Linked DNA regions of Homo sapiens: region 2 is linked to region 1. The links come from fine-mapping of genetic effects on gene expression. A gene starts in region 1. The other region holds a variant in brackets. All regions are shown on one strand. Distances are between the middles of the regions.

Evidence for each region.
Region 2: its variant is fine-mapped to the expression of PSMD8 in tibial nerve (GTEx, PIP 0.91).

What each region holds. Positions count from the first base shown.
Region 1 is chr19:38,371,331-38,376,699 of GRCh38, forward strand. It overlaps PSMD8 (proteasome 26S subunit, non-ATPase 8), which reads left to right and starts at 3,241. Exons shown (of 7, transcript NM_002812.5): 1 at 3,241-3,631; 2 at 4,830-4,902; 3 at 5,022-5,124. The coding sequence starts at 3,272. RefSeq lists enhancers at 3,150-3,780, 3,411-3,550.
Region 2 is chr19:38,314,924-38,320,292 of GRCh38, forward strand. It overlaps YIF1B (Yip1 interacting factor homolog B, membrane trafficking protein), which reads right to left and starts at 1,024. Exons shown (of 8, transcript NM_001039672.3): 1 at 937-1,024. The coding sequence starts at 994. KCNK6 (potassium two pore domain channel subfamily K member 6) reads left to right here and starts at 4,922. Exons shown (of 3, transcript NM_004823.3): 1 at 4,922-5,349. The coding sequence starts at 5,028. RefSeq lists silencers at 859-1,348, 5,015-5,104 and an enhancer at 4,750-5,369. The variant C/T (reference allele first, on the strand shown) is at 2,250.

The DNA.
Region 1 (5,369 bases):
ATAAAATATCAAAAACCTTCTAGGCCACCTGTTAAATAGTGGCTTCTCTGTGTGCCTGTTGGCTGAGCCTCTCCCCAGTGTACCCCAGACCTCCCTGTGGTCCAGCAGGATCCTCCACAATCCAGGCCCATTGCTATGGCCGACCATCTGTTCTGATTGTTCAGTGTTAAATATTCTGAATGTCAACACCTATCTAATGTCTTAAGGAGGGGACCCTGGAGACGTCAGGATTCTTATTTTAGTTGCAAGTAGCAAATATTTCCCTCAAATGGTCTACATGAAAATGGTAATTTACAGGCTTCAGGTACAGTTTGATCCAAAGTCCCAAGGTCCACAGGATTCAGCCTTCATTTCTCTGTAGTTTTTTCTTCTCTGTCCTCCTCAGAGTGCAGTCTCTGACCTCAGGACAACTCCCCTCACCATCTGAGGCTAGTTATACAGTCCATAATCTGGATGGATGCGTAGTGACCAATGAATTGACAAGATGGAGGAATGAAGGCAGGAGGAAATAAATGAGTAAAAAAATACCCTGTTGCATGGTAGGCATTTGGTCAGCATTAATAGATGAATGAATGAAGGAGCGAATGAGGAAAGGTATGAGATTGCACCTAGTTGGTGCTCACCCAGAGTGTTGGGTTGGAGGAATACATTGGGGTTGGCATTGACTAGGCATGGTTGGTAGCACAAAAACCTGATGAAATTTGACAATAACAAGAGTTGGCAACACTCATGTGTGTAAGGGCTGCTGGCTAAGGTTGTTTCCACCACCAAGATTCTACCGAGTCACCTCATGGTCCAGGTGAACACATCATAATCCTGTATCAGCCAAGTCAACATGTTATTTAAATATCACCATCTGCACTTCCAGCCAAGATAGAGTGACAGAGACTGGATTTCCCCTCATACTTGAAACTATTTATGTTTTTTGAGATGGAGTCTCGCTCTGTTACCCAGGCTGGAGTGCAGTGGTGTGATCTCGGCTCACTGCAACCTCCGCCTCCTGGGTTCGAGCGATTCTCCTGCCTCAGCCTCCTGAGTAGCTGGGACTACAGACGCATGCCACTATGCCCGGCTAATTTTTTGTATTTTTAGTAGAGACGGGGTTTCACTGTGTTAGCCAGACTGGTCTCCATCTCCTGACCTCGTGATCTGCCCGCCTCAGCCTCCCGAAGTGCTGGGATTACAGGCATGAGCCACCTGGCCTGGCCATATCAACGTGGTATTTTGTTTATTTGTGTCTTTTTCTTTTTTTTTTTGAGATGGAGTTTTGCTCGTTGCCTAGGCTGGAGTGCAATGGTGCGATCTTGGCTCACTGCAACCTCCACCTCCCAAGTTCAAGTGATTCTCCTGCCTCAGCCTCCCGAGTGAGTAACTGGGATTGCAGGCACCCGCCACCATACCTGGATAGATAATTTTTTGTATAGTAGAGACGGAGTTTCACCATGTTGGCTAGGCTGGTCTCAAACTCCTGACCTCAGGTGATCCATCCACTTCAGCCTCCCAAAGTGCTGAGATTACAGACTTGAGCCACCACACCCGGCCATCATTTTTGTTTAAAACATTTTTTACCACCACAACTTCTTTCACATATTAATTTACTCATTAATTCAACACATATATAATTTCTTTCTTTTTCTTTTTTTCTTTTTTCTTTTTTTTTTTTTGAGCACAGTCTCGCTCTGTCACCCAGGCAGGAGTGCAATGGCGATCTCAGTTCACTGCAACCTCTGCCTCCCGGGTTCAAGTGCTTCTCCTGCCTCAGCCTCCCAAGTAGCTGTACTACAGATGTGCACCACCACGCCCGGCAAATTTTTGGTATTTTTACATTTATTTATTTATTTTCTCTGAGACAGAGTCTCACTCTGTCACCCAGGCTGGAGTGCAGCGGCACAATCTCAGCTCACTACAAGCTGACCTCCTGGGTTTAAGCGATTCTCCTGCCTCGGGCTCCTGAGTATCTGGGATTACAGGTGTGTGCCACCACGCACAGCTGGTTTTTTTGTTTTTTTTTTTTGGTATTTGCAGTACAGATGGGGTTTCGCCATGTTGGCCAGGTTGGTCTCGAACTCCTGACCTCAAGTGATCTATCTGCCTCGGCTTCCCAAAGTGCTGGGATTACAGGCATGAGCCACCATGCCTGGCCAACAAATATTTATTGACTGTCTACTAATATTTGCCAAGCACTGAGATACTGGGAATTCAGTAGTGAAGGAAATCGTCCTGCCTTCATGGAGATGACATTCTAAATGGTGGAGACGGAGAGTGAAAGTCGGGTTTGAGAAAAACGTGCTGCCCAGGCGCAGTGGCTCACACCTCTAATCCCAACACTTTGCGAGGTCAAGGCAGGAATATCGCTTGAGCTCAGGAGTTCGAGACCAGCCTGGGCAGTATAATGAGACTCTGTCTCTATAAAAAATTTAATTTTTTTTAAAAAGAGAGAAAAAGCGATGTTGAATGTGCAGATGTAATATCAATCAGTGGAGGAAGAAGTTGGTATAAGAAGTTGTGAATACTGGCCAGGCAAGGTGGCTCATGCCTGTAATCCCAGCATTTCGGGAGGCCAGGGCCCAGGGAATCGCCTGAGTTCAGGAGTTGGAGACCAGCCTGACCAACATCTACTAAAAATACTAAAATTACGTCTCTACTAAAAATACGAAAATTAGCCAGGCGTGGTGGCACATGCTTGTAATCCCAGCTACTTGGGAAGCTGGGGCAGAAGAATCACTTGTACCCAGGAGGCGGAGGATGCAGTGAGCCAAGATTGCTCCATTGCACTCCAGCCTGGACAACAAGAGCTAAACTCCGTCTCAAAAAAAAAAAATTGTGAATCCTCCACTTACACATGACATTGAAAGCCATAGAGCTGGATGAGTTTTGTAACTAGTTAGTTCATATAAGCTTGGGAAAAAAATGTGGAAGGATGCATTGAAAAAGACTGGAGAGGGAGCCCCAGGTACACATCCTAGCTGTTAGTCCTTTGGAAGGTTACCCAGCCTCTCAGTCTGTCTATAAAATGAGAATAACACAGCTCTCCAAATGGCACGACACCCGCTACCTTTTGGCTTGGAGACGCTGCCCCGAAGGCGGAACCTCCAGGACAGCTACGTAGCGTCCCGAGCACTCAGACTGAAGCCAGGGCAGCCATGTTCATTATTGGAACCGTGAGGTGGGTAGGGGGGGTGGTGTTGAGACAGCTGTCATTTTCAGTTAGGGCAAAAGCCAACTTCCGGTCACCATCTTGAGTGACGACAGAGGCGGAGCTCCAACTGACATGTTCATTAAGGGCAGGGCTCCGAGGGCGCCACCTCGAGAGCGACGGCGGGCTACCCGGGGCGGGCTGAGGCAGGTTGTAGCCCCGCCCCGGGCCTTGGGCTCCACCTCTCGGCCCCACTTCCGCCGGGCAAGCGTTTGTAGGCGGCGCTGCCGTAAATCAGGCGGTCTGCTTGCCGCATCACGCAAGATGGCGGCCGCGGCGGTGAACGGGGCGGCAGGCTTCTCGAGCTCCGGGCCCGCGGCAACCTCGGGCGCTGTTCTGCAGGCCGCGACCGGCATGTACGAGCAACTCAAGGGCGAGTGGAACCGTAAAAGCCCCAATCTTAGCAAGTGCGGGGAAGAGCTGGGTCGACTCAAGGTAAAGTCGGCAGGCCCAGGAAACCGAGTGTTGCGGGCGTGGGAGGCGCTACGAGGTGTCTGGACCCAACCAAGTCCCGGGCCGCGGAAGCCACCTCGGTGCCAGCGAGACTGAGGCGGGCTGGGGGATCCGATGGGGTGAAAGATTTGGAACAGCCAAAGTGGGGGCTCGGAGGGCGTCAAGAAGCGAGAGAGGGACAGGGAGCGTTGATGGTCACGCCTGTAATCGCAGCGCTTTGGGAGGCCGAGGCGGGGGAGCGTCGCTTGAGCCCAGGAGTTCAAGATCAGCCTGAGCAACATAGCGAGACTCTGTCTCTACATTTTTTTTTTAAGTGAGAGATGACTGGAATGGACCCACGCGGGGGTGGTGGGGGAATGATTGGAAGACTTATGGCAGAACTGAGTGAGGGGTTAGATTTTTGGTGCGTGGAGGCTTAACTGGTCGGAGTGGCAGGATTGGGATTCGGGCTTTTCCTGATGGTGGATTCCAGGCAAGACCAAGTGGGAAGTGAGGACTGCCCGGAGTGATAAAAGAATGAGGCTGAAAAGGTGGGCTGTGTAGAGGGTGTGTGGTTAAGACCAGGCTGGGTTAGGATCTGAGAGATCTGGGGCTTAGGCTCGCATCTGTTGGGAGAGGGGGCAGCCTAGTTGTGAAGGCAGGACTGAACCTAGAAGAAATATTCTTACAAGTAGAGAACAAGAATACGGGGCCCAGAGTGCTTCAGACCAAACATCTGTTGGGAGGGAGTGTAAATCCAGTGGCTTGGAACAAGCTGCTGAGCCTGCTAAGGAAAGATGTATGGGCTGAACTGTGGGGGGAGATTTGGACCTCCCCCTCCCAGATATAGATTTTGGGGATAGCCCAGCTACCCCTTCCCCAATAGATTGTGGGGAAGATGGGCCAAGAATGGAATGTACTCCTGTCCCCACCGCCGCGTGATTCCACTGGGTCAGGCACTGAGTGTCCCTCCTTGTTTCCCCAGTGGGGCTATTAATAATTGTAATGTGATGTAATCTTAAATGGGCATGTGTTGCGTGCTCAGGCCCTGTTCTGAGTGCTTTATGAGAAAGCATTCCTCATGAGTCTGGATGATGGTTAGCTCCATTTTCCAAGTGGGAAGACCAGAGCGTAGAGCAGGTAAGTCATCTGTATTTGAATTCCCTTCTTTTCTTTCTTCCCTCCCTCCCCTCCCCATCAGCTAGTTCTTCTGGAGCTCAACTTCTTGCCAACCACAGGGACCAAGCTGACCAAACAGCAGCTAATTCTGGCCCGTGAGTGTCACTGGGGTTGGTTGGGGGTGATAATCTGGGGGTCATGGCAGGAATGGTAGCACTGGTGGTTGGGGAAGAGACCTCAGTCACCTCCTGAGAGCTCACTCTGTCACCCACAGGTGACATACTGGAGATCGGGGCCCAATGGAGCATCCTACGCAAGGACATCCCCTCCTTCGAGCGCTACATGGCCCAGCTCAAATGCTACTACTTTGATTACAAGTGAGAATGGGCCCTGCCCCCAACTGGGGGGGTGGTTGCATGGAAGCTCCTTTATTTCTGGAGCTCTGGCTGCTTGGGTCCTCTTCCTTCATCTGGGAACTCCTCCTGGCTTAGTTCTCTCCTCAGTGGTGCAGGGTCAGGGCTTGGCTTGGAGGTCCTGAGACTTGGCTTGACTAGTCAGTCTCCCCCTACCCATTCCCACATTGCACCCCCTCTGCCCAGTGGGGCTGCCATCACCTTTCACG
Region 2 (5,369 bases), 56 kb before region 1:
TACAAATCTCCTTCTCCTGGGTAACTTTTCATGATCAGAATTATCCTCTTCCATGCCGGGTGCGGTGGCTCACGCCTGTAATCCCAGCACTTTGGGAGGCCTAGGCGGGCGGATCACCTGAGGTCGGGAGTTTGAGACCAGCTTGACCAACATGGAGAAACCCCGTCTATACCACCCCGGGCGTGGTGGCCTGCGCCTGTAATCCCAGCTACTTGGGAGGCTGAGGCAGGAGAATCGCTTGAACCCGGGAGGCGGAGGTTGCGGTGACCTGAGATCGCGCCATTGCACTCCAGCCTTGGCAACAAGAACAAAACTAGGTCTCAAAAAAAAAAAAAAAAGAAAAAGAAGTATCCTCTTCCAGGAAGCTTCACTGACACCCCTAGGCTGGGTCATGTGCCTCCTCAGGGCTCCCACAACATCTCCATCCCAACACAGGGCCTGACACATGGGAGTTGAGACAAGTTAGGTTGAATGAATAAATGAAACACACAGCACACTCACGGAGATGAAGAGACAGGAAAAGGGGGCCAACAGCACAATACAGGTTCGCTTCTTAAATGAGCGGTAGGCATGGCCCTCTGCGCTCCCGGGGGGCCACGAAGCTGTCCTAAGGGTGTGGGCGACAGCAGGCGGGTACTGGGGAGCCACGGAAGGGTGGGGAGCAGGGAAGGGCGGATCGCTAACTGCAAATGAATGAAAGTTGCATTTCTCTGCATATCGCACGCTATCCAGTCCCAAGTTGTTTTCTTCTAAAGGAATTTCCTAAAGAATCGCCCCCCAAGGGGCCTCCTACCCGAACCTGGCATCCCAGCGCTGTGCACACCTCAGGGTTCCAGATCCTTGATCTCGTGACCTCTGACCTGCAGTGACCTCGCCAACCGACGCGGCCGCCCCGCCACGCCCCCGCCCGCCCGATCTCCTCCGCCGGCCACGTACGCCACTTACGCAGCCGGGGCGTCCCCGCAGCCGCCGCCGCCAAGCCTGCCGGGTGCATCCTTCGCCGCCGCCACCTAAGCCGCGGTTCGGAGCGTGCCCGCCCGGCTCCCGTACCCACGCCCCGCCGGCGAAGAGACAGCCAATGGACGTCAGGATTGAGGGAAGGCCTCGCCCCCACCCCCCCGACCCCTCCAGCCCCCCCCTTCACGGAGGCCTGGACGACTGGGCGGTGCCTTACGTAAGAGGCGGAGACTGGGCTACTGGGCTCATGCAGTAAAGCGAGTCAAGGCCTGAGTGGCAGGAGGGCGAGGCCGGGACCAATCCCAGGAGGAGGCGGTGTCTGCCACGACAGAAAATGAGTGTCTGCCCCTTGCCGGGGCTCACGCCCCTAACTCCAGCACTTTGGGAGGCCGAGGCGGGAGGATTGCTTCAGCCCAGGGATTCGAGACTAGCCTGAGCAACATAGTGACCCTCGCCCCGCCCCATCCCTACAATTTTTTTTTTTTTTAATTTAGCCAGGCTCAGTGGCTTAACGCCTGTAATCTCAGCACTTTGGAAGGCTGAGGATCGCTTGAGCCCAGGAGTTCGAGACCAGCCTGGGCAACAGCGAGATCTCCATCGCTACAAAACATTTTTTAAAATGTAAATATCGAGCGAAAAGGTCGATGGGAAATGCAGTTCTCTGCAGACAGCCGTTCAGTTTGGGTCATTGAGAGCACTGGAGAGCCAGAAAAGGCTGTGGAGCAAGGAAAAGAGAAACATTTGTGTTCCTGAGGGGCTAATTGGAGTTGTAGGGGCTTATACAATTTTTGACATCCCTTAGGTATTAAAGTAAATATTTATTTATTTTGAGACAGGGTCTTCCTCTGTTTTCCAGGCTGCCTCGGACCCCCTGAGCTCAAGTGATCCTCCTGCCTCAGCCTCCCCAGTAACTGGCACCACAGGCATGCACCACCATGCCCAGCTAATTTTTAAATTTTTTGTCAAAACAGGATCTTGCTATGTTGCCCAGGCTGGTCTCGAATTCCTGGGCTCAAGCCATCCTCCTGCTTCAGCCTCCTAAAGCATTAGGATTACAGACATGAGCCACAGTGCCCGGCCTTAAAGTGAATATTTAGAGTGAGAAAAGGAAACCCAACAAGTTAGGTGAGAAGAACCAGGTGTCTCTCTTGGAATAGATCTTAAGGCAGTTTCCCAGAAATTCATAAAAATGTTCTCACATTGCAACCTGGTTCCCTCTGTCCACCAAAAGCATTCTACAACCCCCAGCAACTCACAGCACACAGGCGCACCTGCAAGTGAAGAGCCCTGCC[C/T]ACCTAGCGTCCTTAGTCTCTCCTCTCTCTGACTCTCAGTCTCCCCCCTTCTCTCCCTCTCAGACTCCCCGACTTATCTCAGGAAAACATAGTGGTGGAAGTTACTTCTGCGCAGCGATAGCGCATCCGGAAGGATGTCAGCAAGTGACCCTATCGCTGTGGCTTCCTCTTCCTCCTCTGAGACGTTGTCTTTTTGGAGACCTTAAGGGCTGCTCCTGGTTTCTCAGTGATGAGTGCTGGCTCCACTGTGGTTCCTTTTTGTGAGCGAAATGCCCGCATTCTTCTTCACCTCTGATTTAGCCTCTGTCCCCTGGGCTCCAACACCATTTTCTCCTCATCCTCAGCCCTCTCTTGCTCTGGTTGCTCCAGATACATCTCTTCCATAAATGTTTTTTTTTTTCTTATTGCTTTTTTGTTTGTTTTTTGAGATGGAGTCTTGCTCTGTCGCCCAGGCTGGAGTGCAGTGATGCGATCTCGGCTCACTGCAACCTTTGCCTCCTGGGTTCAAGTGATTCTCCTGCTTCAGCCTCCCGATAGCTGAGATTACAGGCGTGTGCCATCGCACCTGGCTAATTTTTTGTATTTTTAGTAGAGACAGGGTTTCGCCATGTTGGCCAGGCTGGTCTCGAACTCCTGACCTCAGGTGATCCACCTGCCTTGGCCTCCCAAAGCACTGAGATTACAGGCATGAAACACCGCACCCAGCCTTATGTATATATATTTAATTAATAAAGCAAGTACTGCCAAGTGCAGCGGATCACGCCTGTAATCCCAGCACTTTGGGAGGCCAAGGCGGGCAGATCACCTGAGGTCAGTTTGAGACCATCCTTGCCAACATGGCGAAACCCTGTCTCTACTTAAAATACAAAAATTAGCTGGGTGTTGTGGCGGGCATCTATAATTCCAGCTACTTAGGAGGCTGAGGCAGGAGAATTGCTTGAACCCAGGAGGCAGAGGTTGCAGCGAGCCGAGATTGTGCCATTGCACTCCAGCCTGGGAGACAGAGCGAGACTCTTGTCTCAAAAAAAAAAAAAAAAAAAAAAAAAAAGCAAGTTCATTAGTTCATTGGCTTCCTGCTGGCCTCATGTTCACCCCTTACCAGTTGTGTGACTACTACTTTTTATTTTTTTGAGGCAGGGTCTACTCTATCACCCATACTGGAGTGCAGTGGTGCGACCATAACTCATTGCAGTCTCTAATTCCTGAGCTCAAACGATCCTCCTGCCTCAGCCTCCCGAGTAGCTGGGACTACAGACGCATGCCACCACACTTGGCTAATTTTTGTATTTTTTGTCGAGATGGGGTTTTGCCATGTTGCCCGAGCTGGTCTCAAATGACTACTTCATTTTTAAGCCTAAATTTTCTCATCTGTTTAGTGGGAATTATATTGGGACGGGGTTGAGAATTCAGTGCAAGTTCAGGTGTCCACAGGGCCTGGCAGAATGTAAGCCTTCGATCACTGGCACCTATTGTGTTACTGATTCTATTATCAGGTGCCTCTGCTTCTGGATTGTCAACCCCAAGTTGGGCTCTGCCCGGTGATCTGCCAGCTCTTTAATAGAACCAGCTGGGACATGTCTGAGCTGAGCCCCAAGCCCCACTCCTCTGCCAGTCGGATGGGGTTAGGACTCTGGGCTGCCCTCCAAAAGGCTGTCAGGAAGGCGCTGAGTTCTGGCTGGAGGCAGAAGTGGAGAGACTTACGGGGGGGCGCAGAAAGAAAAATTTCCTCTTAAATAGAGGCGTGTATTTGTGATTCTGCCTGGCTTGTTTCCATTCATCCTTCATGCTTCAGCTCAGCTAGCCCCTTCCTCAGGAAGCTCTCTTGACCTCCCTAGGCAGGGGTGGTTGCTTCCTCTGGACTCCCAGGGCCCTCTAGGGCTCCCTGATTCCAGGCTTGATCATTGTACCCTTGCTTCCCTCATCACAGCCCTGACCACTCTGGGCTGTCTTTTTTCTTTTTTTTAGAGATAGGGTCTCACTCTCTCCCAGGCATAGCTCACTGCAGCCTCGAACTCCTGGGCTCAAGCAATCCTCCGACCTCAGCCTCCCGAGTAGCTGGGACAACAGGCGTGGGTCACTCTTGTGTCAGTCTCCCAGTTAGACTGGGAGCCCCATGAATGCATGGCGCAGGATGGTCTCATCATTACTGAGTCTCCAGGATCATCCAGCGAGGGGTCAGCAGAAAGTGGGCATTGAACAAAGCTTTGGTGAGTAGCTGAGGATCCCCACTCTGTCCACACGGGCACAGGGGACACCTGACTCTGTGGTGTCCGCTGTTCCCACTCCGAGGCTCACAACTTGGCGAATGGAGCGAGAATTGGATTTCAGTTTGCCCCTTGCTCCGTCAGCCGCGCGCCCTGATGCAGTGCACAACCTTAGCTGCTGTGCGCGATGGGGGGCGACTCCTCGGCCTGCGAGCAGAGAGGAAAGTTCAGATTCTTCTAACATAGAGAACCAGCCTTCCAGGAGGACGAGAAGGAAGGAATGAGGGGAAGAGAGGACTACCTCCACCCTTTCCATCCCGTTGGTCTGCTGGGTCTGGGAGCACTGGGCTCCACCCTCTCCGAACGAACACCTGGCGGTTGGGCGTGCCTCAGTTTCCCGGAGGCGGGGCATTCCTCCGTCGCCGCCCCCCACCTCCCCTTTTTCCTCTTCCTCTTGGGGCATCTGCTGCCGCGCCTGTAGCACTCCCGGAACTGGAACTAGGTGCCAGACGGTCCGGAGGCGGGGGCCACGTCAGCGGGGCCACCCAGGGCTCGCGGGGTCCCGGTGGGTGCCATGCGGAGGGGCGCGCTTCTGGCGGGCGCCTTGGCCGCGTACGCCGCGTACCTGGTGCTGGGCGCGCTGTTGGTGGCGCGGCTGGAGGGGCCGCACGAAGCCAGGCTCCGAGCCGAGCTGGAGACGCTGCGGGCGCAGCTGCTTCAGCGCAGCCCGTGTGTGGCTGCCCCCGCCCTGGACGCCTTCGTGGAGCGAGTGCTGGCGGCCGGACGGCTGGGGCGGGTCGTGCTTGCTAACGCTTCGGGGTCCGCCAACGCCTCGGACCCCGCCTGGGACTTCGCCTCTGCTCTCTTCTTCGCCAGCACGCTGATCACCACCGTGGGTACGTAAGCGCCTCACCGC